Homo sapiens: one gene and its partners. The protein of the gene in region 3 interacts with the protein of the main gene of each other region in a pairwise test. Each region holds a gene or a part of one and is shown on either strand. Other genes may lie near its edges.

Region 1 (7,723 bases), on a different chromosome or scaffold from region 3:
TGGGATCCAAAAGACACGGGACAGCCTGTCGTGGATGGGCTCCTCTTTAGTGGGAGATTTCTGTTAGCTCTGGTTGGAGCAGAGAGTAAGGCCACACAGCAACTGTGAATCTTTCTTCCTGAGGGATTCTTTCAGGGTCTCTGTGCCGTGATATTAGTTTCTGGGAGTGAACTCTTGAGTTTCCAGCCAGGCCTGACAGCATGGGTTGCCCAGCCCACCTGTCCTGGGCTCAGCCTGTAACGCATACCTCGAGAAAAGGCTTTCTGGCTGGGCGTGGTGGCTTACGCCTGTAATCCCAGCACTTTGGAAGGTCGGGGCGGGCGGATCACCTAAAGTCAGGAGTTCGAGACCAGCCTGGCCAACATGGCGAAACCCCGTCTCTACTGAAAATACAAAAATTAGCTGGGCATGGTGGCGGGCACCTGTAATCCCAGCTACTGGGGAGGCTGAGGCAGGAGAATCCCTTGAACCTGGAAGACGGAGGCTACCATGAGCCAAGATCATGCCGCTATACTCCAGCCTGGGTGACAGTGTGAGACTCCATCTCAGAAAAAAAAAAAAAAGAAAAAAAAGAAAGGCTTTCGGCAGACTATGGCCAGATGGGGTGTGGGTAGAGGCATATGTGTGTCTGTGCCTTAGGGGAAAGGGGGTGCCCTCAGGCCTCTGATAGTGAAAGGGTGCCCTCACTATCAGACTAAAAGGTCTCAGCCATTAACCTACTGCATCTAAAAGGCAGGAGGGGCAGCAGGTTCAAGACCTGGAGGGACATTGAGTTCAAGCCACCTGCAACAGGCTCGCTGTCCCACAGCCTTTGAGACATGATCCCATTTGTGGTCTCTCTGGGTGATTTCACCATGTGTGTGTGTGGGCTTCTCATTTAGCCACTCGGCAAATGTGCCCCTGGACATTTATGGTGGCCAGGCCCTATTTGTATGGGGCAGTGGAACATGGGGCAGCAAGAACCACAGCCCAGACCATACCCAGCCCTTGGGAGGCCTCAGGGGCAGGAAGAGAGGAACTCAGGGAAGACAGGACAAGGGCCCACAGAACTTGGGCATGAAATGCAAAGATGGAATGAATGGAGAGTAAGGTTGGCCAGGTGTCCTGGGGGATTCCCCCTGTTGTGGGAGTCAGAAGGCAGCGAAAGGTCACCTTCCCCAGGGAAGGGAGCTTCACAGGAGAGGTAACACTTGAACAGGGCCTTGAACCGTGGGCAGTATTTGGACACAGAGTTTGGGATGGAAGATGCATTCTTAGGAGAGAAATAATGTGAGCAAAAGCCTGGTACCCAGAGAATGTATAATTAGTTATTCAAATCCACTCAACCCTTGGTTCCTGTTGAAGATGATGGCAGGTCCTGGGCCACAGGGTGCTGGTGGACATAGCAGAGTTTGTGTTCCTCAAACCCATGCAGGAACAAAGCTGGCCATTGTGAGTGGCCTTCCAGCAAGTGCCCATAGTAACCACTCGGAATGTGCTAGCTGTTTACTCTTCACCAGGGTTTCTAGGCAGCCTTTCTGGTGGCCAGGACTAGGCTAAGCATCCTCCTTCTGTGTCCTTCCACACATCCTGATGCTAGAAACACCTCTCTCCTCCACCAGTGGGTGCTCCCAAGAGTCAGGGCTCGGTTCGTTGTTGAATCTGCTTCTCCCCAGCAGCTGGTTCCCTGCTTGGCTCAAAGGAGGATTCAGCAAGGGTTTGTTGTGTGACTGTCAGATACAAGGAAAATGTAGCCAGTCTGTCTACCCTTTCCTTTCCAAGAAGCAGGGCCAAGTTGTCTCCAAATAACCAAAAGATTACCAAATCCCCACCCTGCAAGCCAGCATGCCTTATCCCTTGCATAGACAAGGACAGATATATCTATACTACAGAAATCCAAAAGTCAGACAGAGTGGGTGGCATGTTCTATTCAGAGTATGAGAGAGACTAAGCTCATGACCTTCCACACCAATTCCAGCCTTGGCTCCATCCTGGCTTGGGCAGAGTGATTGTATGAACAGGCACAGGGCCCCTGAGGTGGGCAAGTGTGTCTGGGCTCAGGGAGCCACAGAGGTCTCTGACTGAAGCTGAGCCTGTGTGTCCATGTTCCAACTTCCCAGGACTTCTTCCATGGAGAAGCCCCTCACCGTCCTGCGAGTGAGCCTGTACCATCCCACGCTGGGCCCATCTGCCTTTGCCAATGTCCCACCACGGCTGCAGCATGATACCAGCCCTCTGCTTCTCGGACGGGGGCAGGACGCCCACCTCCAGCTGCAGCTCCCTCGCCTCTCCCGCCGTCACCTGTCCCTGGAGCCCTACCTGGAGAAAGGCAGTGCCCTGCTGGCCTTCTGCCTCAAGGCCCTGAGCCGCAAGGGCTGTGTGTGGGTCAATGGGCTGACGCTGAGGTACCTGGAGCAGGTCCCCCTGAGCACCGTCAACAGGGTCTCCTTCTCAGGCATCCAGATGCTGGTTCGCGTAGAAGAAGGCACATCCCTGGAGGCTTTTGTCTGCTATTTCCATGTCAGCCCTTCACCCCTGATTTACAGACCTGAGGCTGAGGAAACTGACGAATGGGAAGGCATCTCCCAGGGGCAGCCTCCCCCTGGTTCAGGGTAGCAGATCCAGGTTGCCTGGGGTTTCTCCACGGCCCTTCCCAGACTTGGGACAGCCCTCTCCAGCCAAGACCTGGAGGAGGAACAGAAATACAGCTCCAGAGGGAACCCCCAGACAGTGCACTCTGCTAGCCCTGCCACTAGAGCAAGCCTTTGCTAGATGAAACAGGATTTGAAATACTTGAGCTGCATCATGCAAGGTTGACAAGCAAAACCCACTGGCTGCCTTGCTCATAATGAACCAATTCTGCAAACACCGAACAAACAGCCCAGGGGGGAGAAGCACCCTCTGTGGCCAGAGCTATGCAATGTAATGGGAACATCATATACTTTTAGAGGCCCTGAGGGGTTCTGGGGAGCCTCTCTCAGCATTTCCACACATTTCTCCCTGTTGTCTGACTAGGAGTTACTTTATGTGGTTCATTTTGTGTGCTGCTTAAGAGCAGGAGTTTGAGGTTGCACCAGGAATGCGTGGACACATGTAACAATTACATTTGTGGTAGCTTGGGGTTACCTTCAGCTTTCAAATACCCACAGGCACGCGGGGCTTAGGAAAGCCTGAGTGTAATAAACTGCAAGTATTTCATTAAGCTGGCATACCCAATAGGATTCCCTGATCCCCAGATGGGCCACATGCACGCCACGCTGTCATGCAGACGTGGGGGTGGGAAATATAGACGAGGTGTAAGAGGAAATTGGAAAGGTGGGACTCACATTTCTGGAAAGGATGCAGGCAGGGCTCAGGGTTTCCTGAGGATGGGAGCTGGGAGCTGGGCCTGCCTGGAAATTCATTGTCCCCCTTATCATCCTCATCCTCACACTCCGCATTCTCTGTCACTTCTGGATCAAGGCCTTGGTTGACTTGAGGGCAAGGTCTTTAGGGAATGAGGGGATGGGGTGGGGGTTTGTGTAAGAACTCAGCCCAGCAGTTATTTCGCTCAGGGTGAGTCACACACCAATGGGGGTGGGGGAATTCCTTCCAAATAAGGGACTCGTTAGGAGCCAGGTACGCCAAGGGCAGGAGGATTTTCTCGGTGAACAAGGGCAGCAGCTATTTGCCACGCCATGCTGAGAAGGGGAGAGTGTGGTTTAGAAACAACGTTCACTAGTGTGATGCAGGGAGGGATCTACATGGTCACCATGATCCCAGACCCCACTCTCCAGGGAATCTGAGGCACCAAGGGCACAGCCCTGTTCCCCTGGCTGACTCGAATCTCTGGGTCTGTAGCTGTCAACAATTTCTGTTTTCTGCCCAAAAGGATGATCGTTTTGCACCCAGGGCAAGCTACAAGGAGGTCCAACTTCACTCACAGGCCCTGAGCATCTTCTCCATCAGGAAAACAGAGGTGGGCAAGACCCAGGCTTGCCCTGGTGTGGGAAGCTTCCTCTCCAATAGGGATGAAGCAAAAACACTCAGATCACAGCCACAAGGCAGGGAGAGCAGGGCTGCTAGGAAGGGGCTCTCTGATGCTGTGAATGACCCCTTGGGACCCCCAAAGCAGTTCCTCATTCATTCAGCAAACCTTCACCAAGCACCCACCTTGTGCCAGATCTGTGCAAAGCCACGGAACTGAACCAGAAGTGAATAAGGCAAACTCCCTCAGGGAGTTTACCTTGCACTCAGGAAAGTCAAGCATTCAGGAGTGCATTACTTATTTGATCACTACTATGATTAGTGCTATAGTCATTGTATTTTTCTCTCTCCTCCAGCTGGGCTCACATTCTCTTGTTAAGTGGCCTTGCCTGTTGAGTGCCTACCATGTGCTTAGCACTCTGCTAGGTGCTGTGTGTATTAACTGCACTTAACAGATAAGGAAACTGAGACTTGGAAAGGTTACATATCTTGCCCAACATCACACCATCAGTAGCTATGCGATTTGGGCAAGTGATTTAGTCTGCTCTTGCCTCTATTTCTCCCGCTGGAAAATGGGTAAGATAATAGTACTACCTGCTAGAGTTACGAGGGTCTTAGAAGGTGACACCTGTAAAGCATTCAATCAGTGCCCAGCACACACTTAATAAGGGTTAGCTACTATCATGAGACCTGAGAGAGGAGGGCTCACCATCCACACGGAGCTAAGGAAGACTCACACCCCAGTAAGCTGGCTCCAGAACCCAAGGGCTTACCTGTGCTCTGTGATTCCCCAACTAGGGATTTAGTTGTAGCCACGGACCTGGTAGGCAACAGGGAGGGGATTTTAATCTGCTCCTTGCATCAGAAGGTCCAATAGGCAGGGTTAGTATAATGGGAGATGCCCTGGTAGGGCTGGCAAGGAGAAGAAGCCACATGTATTTTGGTCTGATGAAAAGCAGCAGTGATCTGTCACTGACCAAAATGGTCCCCCAACTATGCATTACGGAGCAGCAACCCACATACAGAACTCGAGAAGCCACGGCCTGGAGACTGTACCTGGACACCAAAGACTGGAGAGAGGAGCTGGTGGGGAAACCCCAGAGTTCCCAGGGTGCCACTCCCCAGCTCCACCAGAGAACTTTGGGAATGAGCTGCTGCCCCTGAGTGCCCCTCTCCAGGGCCTCAGTGAGGGTCTCTACCCTCCAGGGAGGAACAAAACCTTGCCAGCTGGGGTCCTGCGAGAGGGGGCAGTTCAATTCCTCCACAGGGGACTCTGCAACTCCAATCTTTCGAGTGAAGCATCTGCGAGGCCCTCAGGGACCCAGGATGAACTGCATAGCAGCAGAAGGAAGACAGGCCAGACCAGGCGGGAGGGAGCCCGGAAACATCTGGTTTGTAGTTTCAGACTCTACCCGTTCACAGTTCACACAGTCTCACCGGGAAACTCACACCTTGCCCTGTACCAAGTTTTTAAGGCAGTTAAGCTCTGCCCATCCGAGACTTCATTTTTCTTGAGTAGAAAATCACTGAAATCATCAGATCCATGGCACCCACCTTCACTTTCTCCTAACAGCTGGAACCGTCAGGCTGGCTTCAGGGCCTGGTCTTCGCACTTGATATCACTATCCCTCACCTGCTCAGACAGCCAGAGCAGGCGGGTGAGTTCCTCCCAACAACCTCCACTGCATTCTCTCAGCTCCCACCGCAGGGCAGCCCACGTGCCTGAGTGAACATGTGTGCGTGTGCACACACGCAAGTATGCACAGACATACACTAAACACGAACATACAGTGCACATGAACGCTGCTCCCAGCTAGGGCCCTCTGGTCAGACTGCTGCCTGGGTTAGAATTCTTGTCCCCACCCCCACTTACTATAGTTCTGTGATCCTGGACAAGTAACTGAATCTCTCCGTGCCACAGTTTCTTCTTGTAGAAAACGGGAAAGTTCACAGTACTTACCTCCTTAGAGTCATTGTGAAGGTCAGTTTGAGGCATCACAAATTTAAGGCACCCAGACATAAGGGTCAACAGGGTTAGCTATCACTGTCCAGTTTGGTGGGAGGAACTGAATGCATGTAGGCACATGGACCCAGTCTACACTCAGGCACAAAAGGAGCTACATTAGTTACATTCAGGCATACCCCAGAGCACTACAATTCTCTGAGACATTGTCTGGAAATCTAGAAATCATCTCCTTGCCCTTTAAGGTATTTTAACCCTCGCATTCCTCTGCTTTTCCAAGAATGTGAATCTTGCCAAGCTGTCCGTGAGAGACACGGGCTCCCCTCGAGGGAGACTTGCAAATGCTCCATAAACAGCCACAGTGTGGGGCTCTGCCATGAGGAAGTCACAGCAGACACGCTAGACAGCATAGTCCTGGATGCAACCTGGAGGAAGGGAGGCCCATGGTGGAGCACTCACTCCGTGCCTGTCTGCCCGGTGAGACCTCAAGTTCCTTGCAGACAAAGGCCATGGGTTGTTGGCTCTTGTGTTCCCGGTGGCCTTTCCAGAGCTGAACAGAGGACAGATGCACAGACGGGGGGGCTCTGGTGGTCAAGGCAGCAGTCCCCTTGGATACTAAAGTCTGAGCCAGGCCCCTCAGGCCCGGCATGGGCAGTGCGAGGCCCATAGTGGTGGGAAGCCAGTTGGCCAGCTGGGGTGAGAAGGCCGCGAAGCCATGGGCAGACAGGAAGTGGAGGTGAATGTCTCTGCCTCCTGTAGGCCTCAGCAGGGACAGCACAGACCCTCTGGCTGGGGCAGCGCAGACCCTCTAGCTGGGGCAGAACAAGGCTGGTGCTTCCTTCTAGTCCTTGAGACTTTGTAGCTCTAACTCAAGCAGAACCCTGGGGTTTTGGGATTCTGTGTGGTGACTGCTGAGGAAGGTTTATGGATTTGACAGGGTGCATGTCACAGAGAGACAGTTCTCAGTCAGCACTTCCTGTCCCCTGCAGAGGCTCATAGGGGACAGCCCCTGCCAAGGAGACCCTGGAGGGGCTCTGAGGATAGCAATCAGAGGTTGGGCTGGCTGGACTGAGCCCAGGCCTGTTGCCCACCAAGTCTCCATAGGTTCTAGTCTGACCCCTCTCTCCACCCCTGGGCTATGCAGGCCAGCCCGTGCAGACCACCCCCGACGCGTCCACTTGCAACACCCGCCTCACTGTGCCAACACTCCATCCACACAGGAAAGGACTGAGAACGTGATGCTTAACCCAAAGGAGTGAGTTTCATAGGATGGGTGGCTTTAACAGTTTCACAGCAGGACACTGAGGGAATATTTCCCTATCCCTTCAAATGGACGGTCACTACAGAAACGTGTAGAGCAAGACTTTGTCAAGGGGCTGTTTCCAGGTCTCCCGGTGTCTAAATAGCAGAGCTGGAATGGGAACTGAGAACCGATTCTTTCCACAACCGCCCACTGAGCAGCAAGGCTGCAGCCAGCAAAGAGGTGCGGAGGCAAGCAAGCTCCATGTGGTGGGGACAGCGCATTGCGACCTCCACCACCCCTGCAGTGGGCTGCCAGCTGAGCCACCTGTCTTCCACTGTATCTACTGTACGAACTTCTCCAGCTCTGCTCTGTTTTCTCTTCCTCAGCATCCACCCCGTGACACGTAGTGGTGGCTGATGTCGCCACAGTACCATGAGGTTAACAGGTCCTCCCTCCAGCTTCCCTCATGGTGGCAGCCTAACCTGCATTGCAGCCGTTCACCGGACACCGCACCAGACCCTCAAAACCCATCCAAGACTGTGGGAGGAGTAAACAACCCAGCCCAGTTAAGA
Region 2 (7,023 bases), on a different chromosome or scaffold from region 3:
CTTTGCAGATGACATGATTATATAATTAGAAAACCCCATTGTCTCAGCCCAAAATCTCCTTAAGCTGATAAGCAACTTTGGCAAAGTCTCAGGATATAAAATCAGTGTGCAAAAATCACAAGTATTTCTATAAACCAATAATAGCCAAATCATGAGTGAACTCCCAGTCACAATTGCTACAAAGAGAATAAAATACATAGGAATACAGCTTACAAGAGCTGTGAAGGACCTCCTCAAGGAGAACTACAAACCACTGTTCGAGGAAATAAGAGAGGACACAAGCAAATGGAAAAACATTCCGTGCTCATGGATAACAAGAATCAATATCATGAAAATGGCCGTACTGCCCAAAGTAATTTATACATTCAATACTATCCCCATCAAGCTACCATTGACTTTCTTAACAGAACTAGAAAAAAACTACTTTAAATTTCATTTGGAACCAAAACAGAGCCCACATAGCCAAGACCATCCTAAGCAAAAAGAACAAAGCTGGAGACATTACACTACCTGACTTCAAACTATAGTACAAGGCTACATAACCAAAATAGTATGGTACTGGTATCAAAATAGATATGTAGACCAATGGTACAGAACAGAGGCCTCAGAAATAACACCACACATCTACAACCATCTGATCTTTGACAGACCTGACAAAAACAAGCAATGGGGAAAGGATTCCCTATTTAATAAATGGTGTTAGGAAAACTGGCTAGCCATATGCAGAAAACTGAAACTGGACCCCTTCCTTACACCTTTTACAAAAATTAACTCAAGATGGATTAAAGACTTAAATGTAAGACCTAAAACCATAAAAACCCTAGAAGAAAACCTAGGCAATACCATTCAGGACATAGGCATGGGCAAATATTTCATGACTAAAACACCAAAAGCAATGGTAACAAAAGCCACAATTCACAAATGGGATCTAATTAAACTAAACAGTTTCTATACAGCAAAAAAAAACTATCATCAGAGTGAACAGGCAACCTACAGAACGGGAGAAAATTTTTGCAATCTATCCATCTGAAAGTGCTAATATCAAGATGCTGCAAGGAACTTAAAGTCACAAGAAAAAAACAACCCCATCAAAAAGTGGGCGAAGGATATGAACAGATACTTTTCAAAAGAAGACATATATGTGACCAACAAACATATGAATAAAAGCTCATCATCACTGGTCATTAGAGAAATGAAAATCAAAACCACAGTAAGATACCATATCACACCAGTTAGAATGGCGATTATTAAAAAGTCAGTAAACAACATGCTGGAGAGGATGTTGAGAAATAGGAATGCTTTTATACTGTTGATGGGAGTGTAAATTAGCTCAAGTATTGTGGAAGACAGTGTGGCGATTCCTCAAGGATCTAGAACTGGAAATACCATTTGACCCAGCAATTCCATTACTGGGTATATACCCAAAGAATTATAAATCATTCTACTATAAAGACACATGCACACGTATGTTTTTTGCAGCACTATTCACAGTAGCAAAGACTTGGAACCAACCCAAATGCCCATCAATGTTTTACTGAATAAACAAATTGTGGCACATATATACCATGCAATAACTATGCAGCCATAAAAAAGAATGAGTTCATATCCTTTGGAGGGACATGAATGAAGCTGGAAACAGTCATTCTCAGCAAAGTAACTCAGGAACAGAAAGCCAAACACTGCATGTCCTCCCTCATAAGTGGGAGTTAAACAATGAGAACATATGGGCACAGGGAGGGGAATATTACACAAGGGGGCCTGTTGCGGGTGGGGGGCAAGGGGATGGATAGCATTGGGAGAAATACCTAATGTAGATGACGGGTTGATGGGTGCAGCAAACCATCATGGCACATGTATACCTATGTAACAAATCTGCACGTTCTGCACATGTATCCCAGAACTTAAAGTATCATAATAAAAAATTCATTTAAGTGATCTTTACCCAGACCTTCTCTTGTTTCTGCTTTTTTCACCTATTTCTATAATTCATTGATTTTTTTTTTTGTTCATTGTTTTACTTTTAAAATACAAATACTTCTGCCTTTGGTAATCTGTTATAAGCTACCCTCATCTAACAATTTTCTCCATTTTTCAATTTTTGCTAATACATTTTCGGAGTATTCTAATACACATTTCAGATTTTTATCTACCTAGATAAAACACCTCAATATCTGAAGGCCTACATCCTGCAAATGTAGCATGGGATAAATTTTAGTATATATCATGTCTTTTTTTTTTTTTTTTTTTTTTTGAGGTGGCCTTGCTCTATTGCCCAAGCTGGAGTGCAGTGGCACAGTCATAGCTCACTGCAGCCTCCACCTCCTGGGCTTAAGCAATCCTCTTACCTCCATCTCCCAAATAGCTGGGACCACAGGTGTGTGCCACCATGCCTGGCTAATTTTTATTTTTTGTAGAGACAGGGTCTCAGAAGTTATCCAGGCTGGTCTCAGATTCCTGAGTTCAAGCGATGCACCCACCTTGGCCTCCCAAAGTGCTGGGATTACAGGCATAAACCACCACATCCAGCCCATGTCTGTATTAAGTTGATTATATACAAAGCAGTTTAATGGGTCAATTAAGAGCCCAACCTTCGCATCAGCCTGTCTGGGTACAAAGAGCTTGTTAGCTATAATTCTGGACAAGTAACCAATCTTTCATTTTCCCCATACATAAACTGGGGAAAAAAATTCTACCCGTCTCATTTGGTTATTAATAAACATTAATTAACAGATAAGCATTAATAAGAATTATTAATTATAAATAAGTATTAATAAGAATTAACATGTCTAAAAGGCTTATAATAGAACCTAGAACGTAGTAAGTACCATATAATTATTGGCTATTAGTATTTCAACGGTTAAAATAACAAAAGTATCTTAGAATAAAGTGTGGAGAAGTTTTAAGTACATTTTGTCTTTTAAAGGTCCAGACTACATAAAGGATTATTTACCCAAAATTCATCAGCACACCTCCTATGTAGGAGAACAGCATCTGGCGTTAGAAAAAACTGGAGATCTCAGATATTTATGGAGGCCTGCCTCAAATAGAAGCTTGCCAGCAAAATATAAACATGAGTACGTCAGTGAAATTGGTTGGAGAATACCACAGTATAATTTTATCAACAAATCAAGACTGGGGAGTGGCTTTCATATCAAGGTATTGCTCTTAAATTTATGCTTTTCATAGTATACTGTTTTCTAACTTGAATTCTTTATGAATTTGCTTCCAAAGGAAATGTCGGGTGCTTGATTTCTCATTGAGACATAATGAGGTTTGAGTTTTGCAGAAAGACACATGTGTGAATAAATGCATGTGCTCCACTCCTGGAGCCCTTTAATACATCAAGGGAAGGGTATGAGGAAAACAAAGCCATGGATAATCCAAAAGCGTTTGTGTTTGTCTTTGGAATGTATTCTGATTCACATTCAGGCTGAGGCACTTGCACACACTCTTCCCCCATCCTAGCACTGCTTCATGCGTGGACGATGGAAAGAAAGAAGCCTGTGCTGGGCATCCCATAATCCACAAACCTAACACGTGCATCTCAGATCTTTAAGATTCACTGTACTGATAATGCCTTCGTATCAAGTATTAATAATTCAGGGTATGTTGTCAGAGGGTTTTAGAAACCTTGTCTTATTTCCTTTTGGTGATGTAGACATAGGCATGAGATCCTGGTGTCTCCCCTGAAACAGAAGAGTGCACAAGGGATTTTAGAAGTAAAATCTGAGAATTTGGATATTTTTTTCCAGACAGGCCTGTGCATTGTCTGAAAATTAAATGTATCAATCATGCAATAACTGAATTTCCTCAAATTCTTAAGTTTCATCTGGTAAAGGTTAACAAAAGGAAAAACCATTATTTATTTATTTAGAGACAGGGTCTCACTCTGCCGCCCAGGCTGGAGTGCAGTGGCACGATCTTGACTCGCTGTAACCTCGGCCTCCTGGGTTCAAGCGATTCTCCTGCCTCAGCCTCCCAAGTAGCTGGGACTACAGGCACATGCCATCAGGCCCGGCTAATTTTTGTATTTTTAGTAGAGATGGGGTTTCGCCATGCTGGCCAGGCTGGTCTTGAACTCCTGACCTCAGGTAATCCACCTGCGTCGGCCTCCCAAAGTGCTGGGGTTATAGGCGTGAGCCACCACACCCGGCCAGAAAAACCTTTTTCTGGCCCAAACTATGGCAGTCCAGGAGGGTGGATGGGAGCACAGTCTTTGAGGTTACACTCTGATTTAGGTCTAGCTCTGTGACCTTGGGCAAATCAGTTCACCTCTCTGCATCTTTGTTTGCGCCTCTTCTACATGGCAGTATTCAGAGGCCCACTTCACAGGATCATCTAAATTTCTATCCTAGTTCTGCCACCTACTAGCTGTGTATGGCCTTGGTTAAGTTCATTTGCCTCTGTGCGTCAGTGTCTTCATTATGAAATCTTAGTTCTAGGATATTTTTTCTAGGCAGGCCTTTGCATTGTCTTTGCTCAGGTAACAGGCTGTTGTAAACAGTGCATAAGTTAATATTAGTAAAGCACTAGAAGCAGTAACTAGCATGTATCAAGCCCTATATGCGTTTCATATTGTTATGTTGTGAGGACTATATATGAGAACCCAAGGAATGCACTGAGCGCGATCCTGGCACCAGGCTGACATCCAGATTTTAGCTATTAGTACTGTTGTGGTTGTATTTCATGTAACTCATTAAATTTAGTATGATATTATATTTAATGTATTGTAATATGTTTAAATGCCAGGGCCAAGAAAAGGCACTGATGATAAGCAACGTCTCTTACAGCATATTCCAAAGAAGACCAGTTTCTGAGTGACAAGCTGAGTATAATGAATGCTTAGGTTCTTAAACTGTGTCCTATTCCACTTAGGCAATAAAAATGAAAATCCAAGATTTGATCAAATATCAAACTAACCACCAGCAAGAAAAGTCCAGCCCCAAAGCAAGGCGGCTGGGTTGAATAAAGTCCAGAACTTTTGTTGTCTTGGTGTTTCTCCTTGGGTGATGATGTCCTGCTCTCGGACACAGCCCTCAATCTGTCAGACCATCTTGAGTGTGTATAGCCTCTCTCCCTCTTTATCTTTAACTTAACCTATTTTTCTGCTCAAATGAAGTGCAATCAAGCATTCCTTGGTCTTCAAAGCAAGCTGGGAATCCAAAAGAGATGATAGCTGTGAGTTAGCCTTCCAGGAATGTATTTATTCTGTATCTCTAGTTAGTATTTCATGGATTGCTTTTAATCACTGCACTGCTGAGTAACGGGGTCCTCTTTGTCTCTGAGATTGTGAACCAATCTCACAGTGAACCAATCACACAGTGATTTTCTTCCCCAGCTGTGGCACGCTCAGAAACTGCTTGGAATATACTATAAGAAATGTTGCTTCTCATCTGTGCACTTTCTTGGCCCCAGTATTTTAACAGTAATTGTTTTCAAGGGTCTAGCTGTCTCAGATAACAATCTTGAACAATACCTTAAAGCTCCTTGGACTTAGAGCTTTAGAATAGGAAAAAAAAAAGATTCACTGAGAATGACCACACATACCAGCACTGAAGCATCTATAATTTCCTTAACAGTTAAGATCTAGGTTTTGTCACTGGGTCTACTCATCTCTCCCTCTACATCTAAGGCATACTGCTCTCTCTTTCCATCTAAGGCAGATCAAAATCTTTTTTTTTTGTTTTTCTTTTTTGAGACAAGGTCTCACTGTGTCCCCCAGGCTGGAGTACAGTGGCATGCTCATAGCTCACTGCAGCCTCCATCTCCTGGGCTCAAGCAATCCTCCTACCTCGGCCTTCTGAGTAGCTGAGACTACAGGCACATGCCACCACACCTAGATAATTTAAAAAAATTTTTTAGTAGAGACAAGGTCTATGTTGCCCAGGCTGGTCTCAAACTCCTGAGCTCAAGTGATCCTCCCACCTCGGCCTCCCAATGTGCTGGGATTACAGGTGTGAGCCACCGTGCCCAGCTCACAGTGTCATTTTTGGAGTGTAGACTCAGACTTTTGATTCCTTATCAACCCTGTGCTTCAGGCAGCTACTTCTAAAAAATCAGACTTGGTGCGTGAATTGACACTTGAGCCGATACATACACATACACTCCATGCATTCAAACATGCTCCTAATTACAAAGACTATACAAGAGTGGTGGCATTAACCCAGGGCCGCCCTCACAAGGGAACTGGTAAACTTCTCAGTGTGGTGTCACTTTGAGAAATGTCTCAATCCACTTCCTGTTCGTTCTCCAGTTTCTTATCTGTCTATAGACCCTTTCCATATCCCTTGCTCTTCCTTGTCCCATAATAATCCAAATCAAAATGGTCACTTCTTGTTTTAGTCTAACTGCAGAGACTCCTCAGTGTCTCACATGGCAATTGCTCAGAGCTTGGATTTTAAGCAAAACTTTCATCTCCTGGATTTTTATAGCTCTAACAGCTGTTCTGCCTAATTTACTGCTCCAGGTTTATATAAGACTGGCGGTTAAGGATGCTCAGGCACCTCCAATAGAGTCTTGGTAAAATGCCTGGAGCAGCTGCCTCCTACCTGGGAATGGTTTCTCCTATTTGGGGCACTAGGAGGGGTTCTGCAGATCATCTGGCTTTTTGCAGGAAGATAATAACTTCCATGCTGAGTGACACCTGAAAATCTTCCCCCACGTTGCGGAGGTCAGTAAAAATCACAAGATCGAGTTCCTCTTCCAGATTTTTTAATGTTTAGCTATTTCCTACTGACTCTTACATGGGTTACAATGCAATAATAATAAATGTATGTATAAACAAGGACAGACCATTACTTTCATCATCTCGGATTTAAGAGCAGCACATTCTTTAAAAAAAAATGGATTTGGTCTTTATCAAACTATATATGTTGTTTCTGCAAGAATATATGGAGACAATTGAAACAGTTTCTTTAGTTTCAATCCCGTGCTAAACTAAGGAACTTTTCTAACTGCTGCTTAGCTGGTTGTATCTCCTCTCCACTGGCCTTTCTTTAACCCCAACCTCAATGGGGACTCCTG
Region 3 (7,023 bases):
TGATTAATTTTAAATTAGTTTCTAATTAAAATTTTTCTCATTAGTAAGTCTAAATTATTAAATTACTTCTAATTACTTTTGCTATATTAAATGATATTTTCATCACGAAAGATTTTTTTTCCTTTAATGATGTAACTACATGGAATATACTTAAGCATCTTTATGTATATAAATTTTTTCCCAGCCAAAAAAATTGAGATATATTATTTTGTGGCAAAAATATTCAGTTTTTCCACCAACTTTGCTAAAATAACTTTATTAGATGAAAGAAACATGATCTTTTAATAAAGTTCTATAAAAAGTCTTATATTTCAAAAAAGAACCATGCAAAAATATTTAAAAATACATTAGTTCTCAATACATACGAGGGATCCCTACTTGTTGTTTTCTTATTGCTGGACCAATGTTCAGCTTCTTATCCTTATAATTAAGTTTTTCAGCCTAAAATAAAGAAAAAAGAAATTATTTTATTATTTTAGCACTATTATTTATAAAATCAATAAGGAAAAACTAGTTAGAAAGAATTTCAAAAATTCAGACTATAATATTCTTTCAAAGCAGCAAGGAATAGTGGGAAAGAGCCGTCTTCAGACTGAAATAGATCTGGGTCTGACCGCAATTCCCCATTTTCTCCATTTGTAATACAGTCAATCCTCATTACTCATGGATTCTGTATTTGTGAATTTGCCTACTTGCTAAAATTTACTTGTAATCCTAAAATTAATATTTGTGGCAATTTTGAGGTTATTAGTGGACACGTGAAGAGCGGCGGAAAATTTGAGTAGCCTGATGCGCATGCTCCCAGTTGAGGTCAAATAAGGCGATATTCTTTCTTCTTGTTCCAGTGCTCATACTCTAAGAGAGAGCTTTCTATTTAGTGCCATGTTTTCTCCATTTTTGTGCTTTTTGTTGGTGATTTGGCTATTTAAAATGGCCCCCATGTGTATTGTTGAAGTGCTGGCTAGCACAAGAAGACTGTCATAGGCATTATGGAGAATATATATATTAGATGTGCTTAATTCAAGCATGAATTATAGTGCTATTGGCCATGGCTTCAATGTTAATGAACCAGTAATCTGTTATATATGATGCCTTTAAATGGAAAACCATATAAAACAAGGTTATATATTGATAGGTTGATGGCAATATTGTGACCAGAGGTTCTTGGGAACATTACCTTGTACTTCCCCTAGAAAGAGGAGTTCAGCATTTGCTAATTCAGTGTTCCTAGCAATGTTAGAGAACATAACTGCCACAAATAACAAGAATTGACTGTATTTGATTTTAATAACATACAATTCAAATTCTACTTTTTTTCTAAAAAAGTTAAATGTTATATTTGCCTTAACTTAAAGTTATTACACTGAATTGCTGGCTATAGGCTTTTTTTCTGTGAATATTCTTAGTTTATATAATGTTTTTCACAGGAGGGAAATCATCTCAGATAACCTCACTGTTGGAATCCACATTTGTAGTGTTTTTTAAACATTCAAAATGCTATTAACACTTCGCAAAAGATATATCCCCAAGTTCTTAATTTAAGTAAATAAAGCGAAACATTATATTACAGTTTCACAACCATACTTGTAGTGATTTTGGAATTTGCTCTTCTGCAGATTAAGTTTCCTAGAGACCAATGCCAATCTTAAGATGCAAACCTTTTTTAAAAAGCAGTTGATTATTGTATTTGAACCCCGAAAAGATTAGTTTCAAATACAAAATTTCCAGAAATGAAGTTAAATACACCAAAAGATCATACCTCTTGTAAAATTTTTTGTGCATCTTCTTGTGTTTCAAAAGTGACGAAACCATACCTAAATAAATGCATTAATTATTACTAATTAATCATTTTCTTAGAATGTTATATTAATTATATTAAAATGTTTAAAAATTTTGTTTTTAAATCATCGGCCACTGTAGGAGTAGGCATGTTTCTATGCTGCACTAGCATGGGAATCTTAGAAGAATCATTCACAGCCTAACACTGTCACTTTTAGTCAGGAACTAAAAGAAAAAAAACCCCTGAGATCTTGAAACAGCTTCAGCTCTCAGCTGTATGCAGGAAAGAAAAGCACAAGAGATTCATGCTGTTGCTTAAAAATTGGGGATGCAATAAATTTCAATCCAGAGCAATAATCTCCTTTTAAACTAATAGAAGTTTGGCTAAGAGAAATCAAAGTAGAAAAATAACTAAAAAATTTAAAATTTCAACACAATAAAATTTCTTATATTGGTGAATGACAATGTAAATGTATTATTTAATTATTATTATTAGCACATATAACTGATAATGTAATTATTAGTATATTCCCAAACAATATCAATTAAAAATATGTACAACCCAGATTTCACATCTGTTTTTCATACATAATTAACTTCAAGCACAATTCATATAATGTTGAAGATACAAATACACATAAATGATGTGCTCCATGTCCAAAAAGCCACAATAGGTAGAGAAAAAAGTAACAAAAGAAAGAAAAAATGTATCTCTCAAAACATAATTGCTATTTAGATAACTTAAGTAAACTCTTCTGAGTAATGCTAAATATCTTCACTATTTTCTTCAATTCATAATTACTGGATCATATACAAAGTTTCTTCTTTTAAACAAAGGAATTTCTCTTTATCTATTTGCCCAAACATTAAAAAGTTAAGGAATTAGTTTTACGCTATTTTTTTGGTAGAACACACACGCCACCCAGTGGAAAAGGCATAAAATACAGTTTACATTTACATTTCCATGTATGTTTTCCAATGATTAAAAAATGGTATTACCAAAACATAGCAAATTCTGTTAGTCAAACAAAAGAGGTAAATCTCACTTCACCTTAATATTGTTTGGCATTCTGAGGAAGTATCTCATCTGTTTATAAATAACCTTTCTGTAGAATCCCATCTCTTCCAGCATATCCATCTGTCGAATGTTGTTTCTCACCAATACCACCTCAATGGGTCCCTTTTCTTATGCCTATAAATATGTATGTCTCGTCTCTCTTTCAAGAAAGTAAATACAATACTTTACTGCCTTATCTATTTTCTTTTAACTTTGCAGTCCAACTCCTTAAGTGAGTGTACTATGTAAACTATCTTTTTCCTTTCTGAAATTTGGCTTTGTACACATAGCATTCCACTGAAACAGCTCTATACACATTTAAAGACACAGTCTATTACTTTCTTCTCAATTTTCATTATCATTGATATAGCAATTAAAAATCATTCTCACTAGAATTATATTTCTCATACTGGTCCCCTAATTAGGTCTCTGAGGCACAACCTACAGACATTTCTTGGTGTCAGCTGTTTTCAAATAAAGCTCTCTATGGCCTAAAGCAGGGATACAATTCCAAAAGAATCTGATTCCTTTTGCTTCTCATTCCTCAGCTAATGTACATCTGCTACTTACATTAAGTGCTTGCTGCCTACCACTGAATGGTCCCTCCACCCATGCAAGAATAACTTCTCAACAAATTAAGAAATATTACAGTGTCTCCTCCCTCCAAAATACACACACACACACACACACACACACAAGGAAATCAAAAGGTAGGAGGAAAGAAGAGGGCATGATGGTCTCTGCTGGAAAATGGAACCAAAGTAAACTGGCGTACAAAACCTAGTCATCCAATGAAAATAGAGTTGCTAATTCCATAGACAATCTATAGTGATACTAACCCTTTGGATACTCCAGCTCTGTCATTTACAATCTTCACTTCTTTCACAGACCCATACTGGGAAAAAAATTTTCTTAAATCACTTTCGTTTGTCTAATGGCATAAAAAGAAAACGTTAAAAAGCATTTTTAGTTGATAAAAGATGAATAATTCTCATGCTTGCTCTGGAGACAGAAAAAGTTATAGATAAGATGCATGAAAAATGCCTCTCATCATCAAAACAGTGCATAAACCACTAGGTGATTAAAATCAAGGTAAATATCTTGCTTTATGCAATAGCTATGTTGTTAAATTACCATATGCCAATAAAAATGTAAGCTGAATTATTTTAAAACTACAAAACTCACTATTTAAAGAAATCTTTAAATGATTCTTGTTCTCTAGCTGGCCAGTTTTTAAAAAGCCAATTTGGATTAGGAATGCTATTTCCATAGTAAGGGTACAATACTATTTTGGCTCTTGTGGCTCAGAGACAGTCATGGCAGTGGAACTAGGTTGTGTTGGCCTACACCAGTCATTCTATTTTAATCAGTAGTCTCAGGAACTCCTTTCCTAAGTCAGTTTTAGGAAAGGAATGTATTTCCAAAAGTGCTTGAACTCAACTGTGAGAACAATGGAGTGACTATAAGATTTAAAGTTATTAGATTCCTTATCTGTACTCAATATACATTTCAGCTAAATTCAGACATTGTTTTGATAATAAAATAAAAATTGGAATCATAATTAGATTTAAAGCATACAAGGTGTCTACAAAGATGGTTTTGGCATGTCTGTTTTTTTAATTGAAATAGTCTGATAATAGACTCATATCACCTTTTCTCAGAATACTGACACTAAATTCATTGCAATTTCATTTCCTGGTTTAGCTGTAACTGTTTGTCTACAAGAGTAACTTTTCTCTAGAAAAAAATTTCTTTATATACACTGCAAAAAGACATGCCTTAGTGCAGAGCTATGCCTTTTGAGTTCAACTGCCACCTCACTACTTACATACACTATTGGTTTTTAGTTGGTAACATAAAGCCTGCTAAGCTGCATAATGACAAATACTGATTCAATCTAAGAAAAACTGAATGACTTTTATTTCAGTTAACAGAAAATGAAATCAATGCTAGAATAAGAATTGTTACTAGATATTTGAATACAAATTAATTCCAACTATTCTCTGGTAGAATAATCACTACCTCAATTTTGTAGCTCCACTTCTTTAGTGACAAAGAGACAGTCAAGAAAAGTAAGCATTAAGAGGGATAGTCTGTTTGCTTATAAAAATGAAAGGTTAAAAAGTCTGTGACTACTTGCTATTAAAGTAAATGATTTCCTTGCTGGCCTTTATCTGTGGTTTTGAAAAAGGTATAAGTATACAGGAGGAAGCCCTAGCAATTACCTTAAAGCTATGGCTGCATTATAACAACCGTCTCCAAAGTGCATGCTGTAGCTGATGGGCTTCAGTAACCTAAAATAACCTGGCCATACAAATGTTTATATTTATTGATAACTTATTTTTAAAAACATGCTAATCTATTGTAATATAAATGAATTCCCAAATTGAACATTTCTGCCAGCTATCAGTATTTTCCACAAAGAAAATCTTTTTAAAAATAAATATTTTATAAGAAATAATTTTTCTTACTTTATTTTTAGTGAAACAATCATATACTTGTTTAAGACTCATTGTTTTGGCAAATACACTAAGTGTAACATTTCTCTTGTGCAGGAAAAAAGAAATTCCACCCAAATTGTAACAGATTGGTTATATGGAAATAGTTATAAATGTCAAATATCACACCTAATGGCATAAGGAAGGTTTTTTTTTTGTTGAAAATGATAACTCTCCCTATAATTTCTAATATGTAAAATAGAAGCTTGGAAATCCTTCTATATATCCATTTGAAAGTAAGAGTATTCCACTTAAAATATCTATGCATGCCTTTCTTGTAGGTGTTTACTCTTACCTCCCCTATGTGGGCTGGGGGGCACTGCACATCATGTCATGAACTATGCTTTCTTGAAACAGTGGAATGGCTGATTACATGATATAAATATATTAGTTTTTAAAAAACTTTTATTTTAAGTTCGGGGTACACGTGCAGATTTGTTATAAACTCATCATTGGGGTTTGTTGTATAGATTATTTTGGCACCCAGGTACTAAGCCTAGTACCGAATAGTTATTTTTTTTTCTGCTTAAATATACTACTTTTAAGATGCTTTATTCTGACAAGGACACAGGACTTTTTTGGTGATCAAATCCTAAATTCTAACATAGAAAGTGCTTTGCAAAGAATAGATGCCTAGGAGGTTGCTCAGGAATCTGAGATAAGAGTTGGGGTAAAGAAATAGTATTTCATAAAAGTAAGTTTTTAAAAAATAGAGTCTCTTTTGAAAATTATAATAATCAATTATTTTGGCTATTGGAATATTAGGCAAGAAAGTATAATTAGTTCTGGTATGGAAGAGTATGGAGCTATGAGACAGAAAACTAGGCTTCTAGTCTCACTCTGTCACTATGTGGCTAGCAGCCCACAGCAAGTCAGTGAGGATCAATTTCTTTATATCTGACATTGAACAGTTTTTAATGCTTTATGTAACCTACATGCTGGTTGAAAAGATTCTTTATAATAAGATAATTCAAAATCTGTTAATCATTATGCAAATATGTTATTTTATAGTTGCACAAAGAAATAATTTCTGAGAAATAAAGACTTCTAATGAAAAAATACACTTTACTGCATGCATAAATAGGTACCTTAAAATCAATTCCTCCTACAAAGATGCGATTAGGGATCACTGTTCCATATCTTGGGGCACTTGTTGGGTTATTCAAAGGCACAGGTGACACAGGATTAGGGGATGGAGATAATGAATCTGTTTGCATCTGGTTTGATGTTTGCTGTAAAATAAAATTCTTTTACACTTTTTGCACTGGGTATAATGCAGTCTGCTTTTGATGCAGACCAAAAACATATATTTTTCAAAAAGAAGAGTCATTTAGGCAAAATATAGTATTCTAGGCTTTACTTTTAATATTATAAAAATTATAATTAGAGCTAAGAGCTTTTTAAGGCAACAGAACTAGGAAACACAGAATCTACTCCACTATAGAGATTTTAAATATTAAATATATTACTTAAAATGCTTATATTATTATCAAACCTATTACTTAATTATTAAGGGGAATATTAAACTCATGAACATGTTTGAGAAAGAGAAAACAGTCCCAGCCTGACACAATCAACTACACCCTGGTGTTGTTAGGAGTTGGCCTGGCACTCACAGCTAGGCTGTGGTGTTCTCTTGTTAACAGAACACCAACATCAGACAAAGTCACCCTGTGACTCTGATGGATC
Region 4 (7,668 bases), on a different chromosome or scaffold from region 3:
CCACGGGGTCGGCTAAGCGGCAGGGTAGGGATTCAGCCCCACCTCCTGCTGGACTAACAAGGGGGTTGATCCTTGGGGCTGGCTCCAGACTCCTCAGCCCTCCCCCAGAGCATTCAGAGCCCCATACCCAGTACTCCTGGGAGGCTCTCCCCTAGCCAGTTAGGAGAATGTAGTATTTATGTAAATGTCTGTTCATGAGTGCAGTGTGCCCTCAGAGTCCACTTTCCAGCATTCCTGGCATAGCCCCCTCCACCCTGCCGGGCTCCAGAGGAGGGAGGGAGAGGGAGGCCCCGCCCCCAGCCCCCTCTCCTCCCACTCCTCCCTGCTGGGCAATGAGGAAAACAGGAGTGAGGGAAGAGCTGTGATGTGGCTGGTTGGGGGGGCTCCCGCATCCCAGAAGGGCTGACCTCAGCCTGGGAGGAATGTGCAGGAGGGGAGGGCAGGGGTGGGGCAGGCGGGGGTAGGGCCACAGCCAAAGGCCCAGGGTTCTTGGTAGCCCCTCCCTCAGCACCTCCATCTCAGTTCTGACAGGGCCCTCAGAAGGGAAGGGGAACAGGCAAGGAGGGGAGGAGCTAATCTTTCAAAAAAGGTGGGCCAGGGTTCCCTGGGAATGTGGAGACCAGGCTGGGGTGAGGACATGCCTGCAGACGCTTCCCCAGGAGATGCCCCTGGGGCAGGGCCTTAGAGTGTCTGGGAAGTTAGGCCTCAGGTGATGATCCTATGGCCGCCCACGCCTGCCCCCACTGTGCCTAAGTCCTCTGGGCAGCATGACCTGGTACCTACGTGGCCAGAACAAGGAAGAGTTGTGACGTTGGAGCCACAAGCCCTGATGACTAAAGCAGGTGTGAGTGGGGCGCCCAAGATCCCATCCAGTCCAGGCTGCACTGGGAGGGTTGCCACAACCTTCCTCAGATGGGTGTCCCACCCCAACCACACCACCCGGAGTCCAGGCAGGGGCAAAGGGGCAGGCCCAGCTGGTGGCCAGGGGTGGGGAGGCAGGTGCTGAGATTTGGCACAACAATCCAGGTTTTTCCAGAAGGAAAAGCCAAGGCCGTGGTAGGCCATGCCACTGACAGGCAGCCCCAGAGCAAGGACCCAGGCAGGTCTCTGCCCATGGAAGCTCCCTCAAAAGAGAGAGGTCCAGGGTAGGAGTACAGGCAGGAAAAGGGACCCCAGCTGCCTTGCCTGGTTTGCCCCATTCTGTTGAGACTCAGGCTCAGGCTGCCTGATTCCAGAATCCTCGAGGAGTTCCAGCCCCCAGTGTGACCCACAGGCAGTGACCTTGCTCCTGGAGTGCTGACCTCCATGGGGGCCCCTACCCATGGCCTGGCACACTGGACCTGGGGCTGAGGAACAGAAAGGGGACCATGTGGAATCAGGGACAACTTGACCTCCCATCCCTGGAGACCTCCATTCCTACTCAAGGGAGGGTACACATCTAGAGGACAGAGGACAGGGCACAGCACTCAATGGGGACAGAGACAGTCTAGTCCTTTTGGCTGGGGGTTGACTCCCAGGCTATTGGAAAGATAATGGCGGTGGCGGGGGGGTTTCTGATACCGTTTCCCAGAGTGAACACAGGTGGAGGAAGGTGCGGGGTGATGAAACAGAGACAGGGCCCCTGGGCCTGGAAAAACATAAGGCAGTGAGGGCCTATGGGGGCACAGTGGGAGTGGATGGGAGCCTCTGAGGCACTTGCTGATCCTGGCTGCTTGGGTGGAAAGCTGTAAACAGCCAAAGAATGTTGTCTGCTTGCATGGAGCCAGGAGAGCCTGCCCAGGTCCTCTAAGGCTAGAGGCAGCTACTCCTGGAGTAGGAAAAGGCCACATCCAGGAAGCCCACGAGCCCAGGCAGGGATCTGTCCTTCCACTTGCCCTCCTGAAGGGCCCTGCGGCTCCCACTGGCCCCTGTTATTTACCTGCCAGCTGGCCAGGCCAGGCCAGGTATACCAGGTCCTCAGGCTCAGGAAGGAGGGGCATAGCCCCACTTCCACTTCCAGGGGACTTGGAGATGTGCCCCCCACCTCTGTCCTTGCTTGGCTGGAGGCATCCAGGGCTGGGCAACAGAACTGCAACACTTGAAATGCCCACACTGCCCCATCAGCCTTGGGAGGTGGTAGGAAAATGCCTTTTGCGGGGATGGAAGGATCAAAGCCCATTCTCAAGCCCTGGTATATTCACTCAGGTGGACTTCAGGGCTCCACTCTGCCACTGTCAACATACAGTCCCTCCAGAGAAGTACCCCTCATGTTACAAATGGGGCACGTTCACCAGACTCAGCTTCAGGACAAGACCCCAGGTCATTCCCAACTGAGGCTCCGAGGTGCAGGAGCTCCGTCCTGTCTGTAAAACTCCCTCAGTTTTCGGCTCTGGGTTTGGTGGGGGTTGTTCCTCCCACCTCCAACCTAGAAAGAGAAGCCAGAGGAAGGGAGGTCACATGGTCTGCCCCCCAACCTCTCAGCAGAGATGCAAAGCTACCTGTCCAGGATGGCGGACTCCAGATGGGCCCCGCCCTGTGGTGCAGAAGTGAGATTTGCTGCTCCTCCTGCGTCTGCCCCTCTCCTGCCCTCCTCTCCCTCCCCTATCTGGCTGTCATGGTAGAAGCCACTGCTGGCCAGGCCACTGAAGTACTAAGTGGCCCAAGTGTTGAGGAAGGATGGGGACTGGGTCCTGAGGGCCCATCCGACCTCCAGTTGAGAGCCCCTCCCCTGACCTCCAGCTGCCCGGCCACCCCAGCCGGTCCCTGGGAACTGAGGTGGCAGCTGAGCTCCCCATTATCTTTCCCCACAGCTCCCCACCTGTGGAGGGAGAGGTTGAGATATTGGAGTCCACGGGTGGTGCCCCCACTCAGTGATTCCCTTTGCCTGCTGAGCCCCTGGAGCTGGGGTTTCTTCCTCCCTTGCCTTGGCTGGCCACCTGGCTTCTGGGACCGCCACCTGGGGCACCCTTCTGCTTTAAGGCCCAATATGGGAGGGGTCGTCCCTACCAGCCCCTCCCTTGTGCCCATTCCACTCCCGCCTGGCTGCCGTCTCCAGCTGGTCCCGGCTGCCTGCCCGGTCACCCGATCCGCCCTCTAAACTTTACGGCACGGCGGGCGGTGCGTGGGGCGGTGGCTGGCCTGGTGGGGGCGGGGGCTGCTTCTTAAAGGAGCCGTCAGAGGGTCCCCAGCGGCCCCAGGGTGGGAAGGGGCCAGAGTGGAGAGATGCTGCTGCGGAAGTCCTCGGTGGAGTGTGAGAAGGCAGCCAGTGTTGGCCTGGAAGACCTCTAGAACCTGAGAAGAGGCAGCGGCAAGTGTCAGCGGAGGGAAGGAGGGAGGTGGGGGTCCTGGCCTGGGATGGGGCCAGGAGCTGGGCAGGAGTGTGGGTGGAGGGGCCTGGAACCTGCCTCAGCAGCTGCTCCACTTGCTTAATCCCACCTGGAACCTTGTCCCACTCCCTGGGCTCCTGTGTCCAGCACCTGCCCAGCTGACCCCTGGGAAGGAGGGTGGGCATAGCAGCCAGGTCTTTGCCCCAGCTGAGGGCCAGGGGGAGGTGTCTGGCTCCTAGAGTGAAGGGGCTCAAAGATGGGGAAGAACTCAAGGGGTGAGAGAAGTGAAGGGAGAGGCTCAGAGAGGCTGTGGAGGCGTTGAGAGGGAAGGCCAGCTCAGCGAGGCCAGGAGGCTGGGGTGCAAATGAAGGGCTGCCTCACCTTGCCCCTCTTTGATTCCTCAGGGGTGTGGAGAGAGAGCCCTCAAGCTCAAATGCAGAGGCTGCTTCAGCTGGGTTGGGAGCAGTCCCCAAGTCAGAGGCTGAGGCTTCTGCCCAGGTCTTGGGTCTCCTGGGTAGCACTTCTCCCTCTGAGGAATGGAGTGATTGATGCTGCAGTTGGATTTGCTCACTTGCATGCCCAGAGACATGTCTATTCTTATGGGTGCACACGTTTGCACATGCACAAATGTGCAACACATCTGTGTGCAAAATATGCACATATCACACATATGTACTGCATGGATTGCACAGTGCCACATGTGTGTGCACACCAACCCATATCCACACATGTGCAATATGACACACTATATATTTGCACATAGATGTGCACACACATGCACATACACACTACACACATGCGCACATCACAAGGGGACACTCGGAAACACATTCACAGGCACCCACACCCTTGGCTCCAGCCTCAAAAGTGTCTCTGTGTTTTTCTGCGGGACTGTGGGGACACTGCCACCTCCAGAGGCCTGACCCCCTCCTGTCACTCTCACTCTTTTGACTGGCTTGTTTTGCTCATTGCACTTGGCACCCTCTGCATCCATCTGATTCCTTGTTGGCACTCTGTCCCCTTTCACATGGGGACCTTGTCTATGTCTCCCAGTATCCCTCCTCCCAGGTCTAGGCTGGCATGAAGTGGGTGGCACATTGTGAATTAATGTCTGTGAGTGTGTATACAAGAGAGGAGATTACTGGGAAGGGTGACGTGGTGAGGCGGGCTTGCCAGTGCAGGGTGACCCTGAGGGTGTGCCCAGTGGCGTGGGTGTGTCTGTGATTGTGGCCAGGCGGGGCACCCTCGGAGGGGAGGGTTCGGAAGTGGAATGCGACCCCCCAGCCTCTTTCCCCTAGGGGCTGTAATCTGATCCCTGGGGACTCCCCCCCTAGCCTCCCGCCCTCGCCCTCACTGCTGACTCCTCTTCCAGATCCTGGGGCAGAGTCCAGGGCAGCTCAAGGCTCCTCCACACACACACCCGCTGAACCCTGAGCACCCTGAGCTGCTGAGATGGGGCGGGCCGGGGCTGCCGCCGTGATCCCGGGCCTGGCCCTGCTCTGGGCAGTGGGGCTGGGGAGTGCCGCCCCCAGCCCCCCACGCCTTCGGCTCTCCTTCCAAGGTAGGTGCACCTGGCAGGCGGGAGGGCCCAGCTTGAGGTGGGCAGGAAAGGGTCCCCGTATGGCCAGGGGGCTCTGTGTTGGCTGTTGCCCCATGTGCGTGCCTGTCACCAGACTCTGGTAGGATTAGTGGGCACTCTCAGGCCACCTCCAGTTAACCCTGTCCGGGCCTCAGCCCCCAGCCTCTGCCCACATTCTCTTCGTGCTTTCTCAGGAAGACCCCTCCTGTCCCCACAGCAACAGACCTTGTCTCTGTTCCGTTCAGTACCCCCAACAAGGCGATACTCCTTCAGCAGAGCAACAGGGAAGTCAGAGCCCCCTTCTCATGCCTCCTGTATAGGAGGGTGGCCCCTGGGCAGTGGCAGTGAATAGGCAGTTCTGCTGAGCTCAGGCTGGTGGTGGAGTGGCAGGAAAGGAACTCTCAGCCTGACTTTTGGGAGTTGGGGTTCTGGCCATCCCTGCATGCCAGTCTCCCCCAGGACTCTGGTGTCCATAAGCCTTGCCTCCCAGTGCGCCCGCCTGGAGACACCACCTGTCTGAGCATGCCCAAGTTCAACCTGCCTTCCTCTTCCTGGGGGGATGTACCACCTACCCTGGCAGCTCCACACGTGCACCTGGGTGGGCTTGGGTTTGCGTGTGTAAACTCACACACATGTAAACTCACATGTGTACAGGCCAGGTCCTAATGGCAACCTTGGCCGATAGAGTCACCACCAGGCAGGACCTGGGGGAGGCTTCCAGCATGGCTGGCGAGTCATCAGCAGTGTCCTGCCCTGCAGAGCTCCAGGCCTGGCATGGTCTCCAGACTTTCAGCCTGGAGCGAACCTGCTGCTACCAGGCCTTGCTGGTGGATGAGGAGCGTGGACGCCTGTTTGTGGGTGCCGAGAACCATGTGGCCTCCCTCAACCTGGACAACATCAGCAAGCGGGCCAAGAAGGTGCCAGGGACTCCCAACCCCAGCACTCCCCAGGGAAGGAGCCCTGGGACCCCACTCCAGCCTGGAGAGACCCAGAGGAATGGCTCCCTGAGGTAGAGAATATCCCAAGTTCCTGACCTGTGTCCCCTCTCCCCCAACCTCCCGATAGCTGGCCTGGCCGGCCCCTGTGGAATGGCGAGAGGAGTGCAACTGGGCAGGGAAGGACATTGGTGTGAGTGCCAGCTGCCCGGGCCGGGAGTGGGGAGGGTCAGCCCCTCACCCCAGAGACAGGGCAGGGCTAAAACAGAGGCCTGCCTGTTCTGGCTGGGATGAGGGCAGGGAGGTCGAGGTGGCTGAGGTCTGGGGGTGGTGAGTCAGGGTGGGGGCTCGTGTAATTCTTCTGGGGTGCCTCTGAGTCATGGGAGGCTTTGCAGGCCTGTGCTTCCCCAGACACCCACCCTCGTGAGGCCTGGGCTGGTCAGCAAGGGCCCCCAGGTCCCTGTAGCCCATGTTAGTACTTGCCTGGGCTGATGCCGAAGAGAGGGAGGGGTGAGGATGCCACTGGTGAGCTGGGACCTCTTAAGGCTACGTCCCTGGGGGAAGCCTCACACCTCCAACCCTACTAGACTGAGTGCATGAACTTCGTGAAGTTGCTGCATGCCTACAACCGCACCCATTTGCTGGCCTGTGGCACGGGAGCCTTCCACCCAACCTGTGCCTTTGTGGAAGTGGGCCACCGGGCAGAGGTAAGGCCGGATCTAGGCAGGGAGGGAGGTCAGGAGGGTAAGAAGGGCCTGGTAGTCACAACTTGCCACACCTCCCAGGAGCCCGTCCTCCGGCTGGACCCAGGAAGGATAGAGGATGGCAAGGGGAAGAGTCCTTATGACCCCAGGCATCGGGCTGCCTCCGTGCTGGTGGGTGAGTCCAAGGGCTAAGGCCCCAAGAGAACCCCTTAGAAACTCTAGAACCTCACAAAGTCCCAAGACCCCCAAGAGCTCCAGGGAATCCCCCATAACCTCACTCACTCCCAGAGCTCCCCAGGCCCTCCTGCCCCAAGAGCCCTCCATTTGCCTGAGTGGCCCTTGCTCTGTCTGCAGGGGAGGAGCTATACTCAGGGGTGGCAGCAGACCTCATGGGACGAGACTTTACCATCTTTCGCAGCCTAGGGCAACGTCCAAGTCTCCGAACAGAGCCACACGACTCCCGCTGGCTCAATGGTGAGAGGCTGGTGGGGTTGGTGGGTAGAGGTCGTCACCCTCCCACAGGGCAGGTGCCAAGCAAGGCCCATAAAGTAAGTGAGCAGTGGGTGTGGCCAGGTCTTACCAAATACCCTCCTTAATCAGGCACTGGCGTCACAGAGACAGACAAGACAGGTATGACCGTGACCTCTTTGAGTTCACAGATCACATACATGATAAGATCAAGTCCAATGGCCTTGAGGCCAGAGAGAGACAAGGGAGGAAGGGAAAAGGAGACTGGGTGGCTGGAGGGGGTTGGGTAAAGGAAGCCGCTGTGCTGAGGGGAGTATGAGCTAATTCCCAAGCACAAGACAGCTAGCCAGCAAAATTTAGGGATGAGCATTCCAGGCAGAGGGAGCATTCCAGGCAGAGGGAGCAACTAGTGCAAAGGCCTGGATGCAAGAACAAGCAAAGGAATAGACTTGCAGAGCTAGCAATGAAAAGGGGGCCTGGACTGTCAGGGGCCAGAGTCATTTATTCTAAGAGTCATGGGGGCTGGGCACAATGGCTTGCACCTGTAATCCCAGCACTTTGGGAGGCTGAGGCAGACAGATTGCTTGAAGACAGGAGTTTCATACCAGCCTGGGCTACAAAGCAAGACAAAAAATAAAATAAAATTAGCTGGGGGCAGTGGCATGCACACACCTGTA

Evidence for each region.
Region 1: the proteins of BOLL (region 3) and DCANP1 interact in binary tests that used the Homo sapiens proteins (3 or more experiments, as listed by UniProt).
Region 2: the proteins of BOLL (region 3) and SPMIP2 interact in binary tests that used the Homo sapiens proteins (3 or more experiments, as listed by UniProt).
Region 4: the proteins of BOLL (region 3) and SEMA3B interact in binary tests that used the Homo sapiens proteins (3 or more experiments, as listed by UniProt).

The regions. Positions count from the first base shown.
Region 1 is NC_000005.10:135,444,326-135,452,048, reverse strand, and holds the start of DCANP1 (dendritic cell nuclear protein 1), read left to right. Parts: upstream 1-4,700; 5' UTR 4,701-4,940; coding exon 4,941-5,675; 3' UTR 5,676-7,723. Other genes in the region: TIFAB (TRAF-interacting protein with FHA domain-containing protein B), read left to right, coding at 2,110-2,595.
Region 2 is NC_000004.12:158,969,212-158,976,234, reverse strand, and holds part of SPMIP2 (protein SPMIP2), read left to right. Parts: intron 1-2,923; coding exon 2,924-3,156; intron 3,157-7,023.
Region 3 is NC_000002.12:197,775,300-197,782,322, forward strand, and holds part of BOLL (protein boule-like), read right to left. Parts: intron 6,567-7,023; coding exon of another isoform or gene 6,552-6,566; coding exon 6,423-6,551; intron 3,768-6,422; coding exon 3,676-3,767; intron 1,815-3,675; coding exon 1,760-1,814; intron 442-1,759; coding exon 366-441; intron 1-365. UniProt on the Homo sapiens protein: Probable RNA-binding protein, which may be required during spermatogenesis. May act by binding to the 3'-UTR of mRNAs and regulating their translation.
Region 4 is NC_000003.12:50,264,484-50,272,151, forward strand, and holds the start of SEMA3B (semaphorin-3B isoform 1 precursor), read left to right. Parts: upstream 1-4,663; 5' UTR 4,664-4,757; coding exon 4,758-4,866; intron 4,867-5,643; coding exon 5,644-5,801; intron 5,802-5,949; coding exon 5,950-6,012; intron 6,013-6,406; coding exon 6,407-6,526; intron 6,527-6,604; coding exon 6,605-6,698; intron 6,699-6,877; coding exon 6,878-6,997; intron 6,998-7,668. UniProt on the Homo sapiens protein: Inhibits axonal extension by providing local signals to specify territories inaccessible for growing axons.